2 separate regions of the Homo sapiens genome follow, and region 2 is linked to region 1. Evidence: fine-mapped expression QTL. A gene starts in region 1. The other region holds a variant in brackets. All regions are shown on one strand. Distances are between the middles of the regions.

What was found. PIP is the estimated chance that this variant, and not a neighbour inherited with it, causes the effect.
Region 2: its variant is fine-mapped to the expression of CHADL in whole blood (INTERVAL, PIP above 0.99).

Annotation. Positions count from the first base shown.
Region 1 is chr22:41,239,420-41,242,333 of GRCh38, forward strand. CHADL (chondroadherin like) reads right to left here and starts at 1,512. Exons shown (of 6, transcript NM_138481.2): 1 at 1,455-1,512; 2 at 24-201. The coding sequence starts at 1,462. RefSeq lists enhancers at 1,115-1,615, 1,616-2,116.
Region 2 is chr22:41,179,152-41,182,065 of GRCh38, forward strand. EP300 (EP300 lysine acetyltransferase) reads left to right here. Exons shown (of 31, transcript NM_001429.4): 31 at 1-926. Among named protein-coding and RNA genes, the nearest start is that of EP300-AS1, 17 kb to the right of the region's middle. The variant GA/G (reference allele first, on the strand shown) is at 1,221.

The DNA.
Region 1 (2,914 bases):
GCCTGTGCTCCTGCCCTGCTGACCTCAGGGATGGCGTCTGGCACCTCAGTGAGGTTCTGGTACCGGCAGGCAACGTGTCGCCTGGAGTTGTCACAGATGCAGGCCTGTGGGCAGCGCTGGGCGGCGGCCTGCCTAGCCGGGGCCAGCAGCAGAAGTACAAGAAGCGGCAGCACCAAGGGGACATGGGTGGAGCTCCGGGGCCTGGGACGGGGAGGGAGAGTCTGTTGTGCACAAGGGCCGAGGCCACATGCTGTCCCTCACTTAGTCCCAGCCATGGTGCAGCTCCTGCCCCAAAAACCCCTCAGAGCCTCCTCCTTTGGGCCCAGGAAAGTGCCAATCACCCTGAGCCTCCCTGCCCCCCACCCCCCACGCAGTGGAGGTCCTATGATTAGTCCTGTTTTACATGGGAGGAAACCGAGGCTCAGAAAAGTGACCTGGTTAGTCCCTTTGCCTCTGCCCAATGGCTCAGTGAGGACTTGCTGACTGTGAGAATGACTCCAGTTCAGAGCATGTTCTCAGGCTGTGGTGAGGCTCTGGTCCAGGGTAGGCTCGGAAGCAGCCTGTCCTCAGACTGATATGATGCCAGCTCCCAGGTGGCAGGAGCATAATGGTACCCCCCAGAAAGGAGGGAGGCATCCAGTCCGGGTCCTTGAGTCTTTTTTTGTTTGTTTGTTTAAATAGAGACAAGCCTTGCTCTGTTGCCCAGGCTGGAGTCTGGAGTGCAGTGGAATGACTATGGCTTACTGCAGCCTTCACCTCCTGGGCTAAAGTGATCCTCTCACCTCAGCCTCTTGAGTAGCTGGGACTACAGGCACACACCACCACGCCTGGCTAATTTTTTAATTACTTCTGGTAGAGACAGGGTCTCGCTATGTTGCCCGGGCTGGTCTTGAACTCCTGGCCTCAAGTGATTGTCCCACCTTGGCCTCCCAAAGCGCTAGGATGATAGATCACCTCCCCTGCCCAGCTGGCCCCTCTGTTCTCAGCCTGTGTCAGGCATGGCCTCTCCCCCATCGCTGGGCTGTTCCCCGGCCCCCAGGAGCCTCCCCCTCGCTGCTCACTGGACTATCGTCTGTTTTGGAGTCTCCTTTGGGTCCCAGGCTCCAGCCCCTGCGTTGGAGTTGGTGGCTTCTCCAGAGCCTGTGGTGAAGGCTGTGCCTCAGGGCAGGCCAGGGAGGGGACCCATGGGGACAGATCGCTGAAGCGACAAGCATTCATAATGCAGGGACCACTGCTGGGCTCTCAGACAAGCCCCAGAGGACCAGTTCCTGGCAGTGGCCACATTGCCACGTGTCTCAGAGCCCACCTTGGGAGACCCCCTTCCTGGAGAACCCCAGGAAGTCCCCAGAGCCCCTGCCCGCCAGCCTCTGAGAGGCCCAGAGGGGGCAGAGACTTACCTGAGGCCACTGAGCTGCTCTGAATCCCCCCTTGCACCATCGGGCCCAAAGACTCACCCCTCCATGCCGCCTGGAACTGCTGGTCCAGCCTGGAGGCGCAGCGCAGGGACAGGCTGTCCCCGCCTGGCAGGAGCCCCCCTCCACGGCCCGCAGGCCTGGCAGCTGGGACAGGGCTGAATGGGAGGCATTGTCGGCAGACCAGGCAAGCCAGGCTTCCCCAGGCTGAGGTGAAGAAGGGGCGGGCGGCGGGCGGGAGCAGCGGCTGGAGTTACAGGGCCTCCTGCCTGCCCCAGCCGAGGACTGAGGCCCCGGCCTGAATCCTTGGGCCAGCCCGACAGGGAGGGGGCACCAGCAGCTGGCCCGGGAGTCAGCAGTCCTGGGCTCCCTCCTGCCATGTGGGCTGCCCTCCCAGAGGCTGCTTCCTAGTCTCTGAAAAACACATCCCATTAATAAGTAGCTCTGAGGTCACAGTGGGGGTTCAGGCCCGCACCTGGCACACAGTGGGTGCTTCAGAACAGGTGACCCTTTCCTTCCGTTTGTGCTTACACATTGACATAAATAGTTTAATACTGGACACACAGGATTCTAGACACTCATTTTTTTCACTTAACCTCAGATTACTGGGAGTTATCCAAATTGACTCTTCCGAATCTCATTATTCTGTGGTATATAGTATTCCATTGTGTAAATGTATCACATTGACTTAGCCATTCATCTTGGACATTGGCTACCTCCAATTTTTTGCTATTTACAAACAATATTGCAAAGAATATCCAAATACGCATCTTCCCAAGCTCGTGTTTGTTTTTTAAATAATACATCCAGACCATGGCCAATGTTCATGTATCTTGATTTTTCAGATTCCTGCTTCTGATGGAATTGCATCTTCTACTGTTTGTTCCTTTAATTGGAAACAGGGGTCAGGCACAGTGGCTCATGCCTGTAATCCCAGCACTTTGGGAGGCTGAGGTGGGAGGATCACTTGAGCCCAGGAGTTTGAGACCAGCCTGGGCAACACAGACTCTGTCTCAAGAGAAAAAAAAAAGGCCGGGCGCGGTGGCTCACGCCTGTAATCCCAGCACTTTGGGAGGCGGAGGCGGGTGGATCACGAGGTCGAGATCAAGACCATCCTGGCTAACACAGTGAAACCCTATCTCTACTAAAAGTACAAAAAATTAGCCGGGTGTGGTGGCAGGCGCCTGTAGTCCCAGCTACTTGGGAGGCTGAGGCAGGCAAATGGCATGAACGCGAGAGCCGAGATGGCGCCACTGCACTCTAGCCTGGGCAACAGAGTGAAACTGTCTCAAAAAAGAAAAAAAATATATACATATATATATATATATATATATATATATATATATATATATATATATATATGTATGTGTGTGTGTATACACTTATGTGTGTATATATTTATATATAATAAAAATATAAATGTATATGTTTATATATATTTATATATGTTAAACAATGAACATCTGTGTGTACTTTTCCTAGACTGCAGGAGTTTTTTGTTT
Region 2 (2,914 bases), 60 kb before region 1:
TATATTTTTGTTATGGCTGGTTACCACCAGCCTTTCTTCCCCTTTGTGTGTGTGGTTCAAGTGTGCACTGGGAGGAGGCTGAGGCCTGTGAAGCCAAACAATATGCTCCTGCCTTGCACCTCCAATAGGTTTTATTATTTTTTTTAAATTAATGAACATATGTAATATTAATAGTTATTATTTACTGGTGCAGATGGTTGACATTTTTCCCTATTTTCCTCACTTTATGGAAGAGTTAAAACATTTCTAAACCAGAGGACAAAAGGGGTTAATGTTACTTTAAAATTACATTCTATATATATATAAATATATATAAATATATATTAAAATACCAGTTTTTTTTCTCTGGGTGCAAAGATGTTCATTCTTTTAAAAAATGTTTAAAAAAAAAAAAAAACTGCCTTTCTTCCCCTCAAGTCAACTTTTGTGCTCCAGAAAATTTTCTATTCTGTAAGTCTGAGCGTAAAACTTCAAGTATTAAAATAATTTGTACATGTAGAGAGAAAAATGACTTTTTCAAAAATATACAGGGGCAGCTGCCAAATTGATGTATTATATATTGTGGTTTCTGTTTCTTGAAAGAATTTTTTTCGTTATTTTTACATCTAACAAAGTAAAAAAATTAAAAAGAGGGTAAGAAACGATTCCGGTGGGATGATTTTAACATGCAAAATGTCCCTGGGGGTTTCTTCTTTGCTTGCTTTCTTCCTCCTTACCCTACCCCCCACTCACACACACACACACACACACACACACACACACACACACACACTTTCTATAAAACTTGAAAATAGCAAAAACCCTCAACTGTTGTAAATCATGCAATTAAAGTTGATTACTTATAAATATGAACTTTGGATCACTGTATAGACTGTTAAATTTGATTTCTTATTACCTATTGTTAAATAAACTGTGTGAGACAGACACCCTGACTTTGTTTCACTTGATAACACATCTTTGTCTTGGAGTACACCCGTTTTAAGTGCCTAATGCTTAGGATTCAGAGGAAAAAGTGAAAGCATTAGCTTATAGCCTCTTTAATCTACTACGTATAATGTATTCACAAGTAGATCTTGGTGAATTTATCCAAAGTTCTGGGAAAAAGTACTGCAGGTACCAGCTAACAGTCAAGGTGGAAGTGATAACCTACTTAACACCTTGATACAGGACCCCTTAAGGATGACCTCATGGTCTTCCAATCACCTTCATCTTACAGGGAT[GA/G]GAAGGAGGACCTAAGAAGACGGATCATATCTGCCTAAGTCCCAAGTAACTTCTTGGAAAAAACAAGACTTGCCAGGCATGGTGGCTCACGCCTATAATCCCAACATTTTGGGAGGCCAAGGCAGGCAGATCACGAGGTCAGGAGTTCAAGACCAGCCTGGCCAATATGGTGAAACCCCCATCTCTACTAAAAATCAGCAGGGCGTGGTGGTGGGCACCTGCCGTCCCAGCTACTTGGGAGGCTGAGGCAGGAGAATCAGATCCTGGTGGAGGTTGCAGTTAGCCAGGATCTCACCACTGCACTCCAAAGACTCCGTCTTTTAAAAACAGAGAAGATGAAGCTAGGGGAACACTCCTGTTTGCTAACTGAATACAAAGAAGTCAGTTGGAATCGGGTTGAAGGGAAGGAAAATGTGTGGAAATAAAACCTAGAAGGCTGAGAGAGATTACACATGAGTCCAGTAATATGCTAGATGCTCAAAGAATGGAGAGATTATTGATCCTCCATCTGAACATTGCAGTAGCTGTGAACAAGTTGTTAAAACAAATGTGTTAGTACACTAAAAAGTACTGAGCTGCTTTGGTATCAATTCCAGATCTTTCTTTTATCACAGAGATTTACACTAACCATATATGACTGCTAAAGGATTTCAGATACGTTGACCTGTTGCTACTATTTTAGTCTGAAAACAACCAGCATCTTTTTTTTTTAAGACAGTCTCGTCACCCAGGCTGGAATGCAGTGGCACAATTGTAGTTCACTGTAGCCTCAAACTCATGGGCTGAAGCAGTCCTCTTACCTCAGCCTCCCTAGTAGCTGGGACTCAAAGGTGTGTACCATCATGCCTGGCTGACTTTTTAAAATTTTTATAGAGACAGGGTCTTGCTATGTTACCCAGTCTGGTCTCGAACTCCTGGACTCAAGTGATCCTCCACCTTGGCCTCCCAAATTGCTGGGATTACAGGCATGAGCCACCTTACCAGCATCTTAATGTGAGGTGAACTCACTCAGCATTAATCAGAGCCAGCCCCAGAAAATGTATCTAGTATCAAGCATCCAGCATCCACCTGCTTCAGCTCAGTGACCCCGCAGATATCCATGGAGCAGCTACATCTGTGCCAGGCCAGGCAGAGCACACATGAACAGCATGCAGCCCTGCCCTCAACCTAACCAGCTTAAGGTCTAGAAGACAGCATGACAAAGTACAAAGCACCAAGTGATCTATGCAAGGAATGCAAGAGGGAATCCATGAAAGAAAACCTAGCTGATGGGAATTGGAAATGTTTCTGGAAAGGGTAGCATGGAAGCTGGATGTTGGAGGAGAGATAGGAAGAGGAGGAGAGGAGGCGGCGCCCAGAAGAGTGCACCACATTCTGCTAGGGAGCAGCTCCAGGTCTACTTGGCTGAGACCCGATAAACGGAAGTAGTGAACACCTGTTCCAGAAATACGGCCTTCCAGCTCCCTAAGACTAGGGGCCCAGGATTCATGTGAATAAACCCTCAAAAGGGAAATGTTTAGAATTCCATCCCATTTCCAAGCAGTAAATTCCCAGGTTTCAAAGCTCTGCCTCTGGCTAAAGACAGCCGGGTTGAAGTGTTAGACCAGTGCATTCTTACTGCAATGATGAAAGCAGGAAGTAGGGGCAGAAGTCATTAAATAGGAAGGAGGCTGGGCACGGTGACTAACACCTG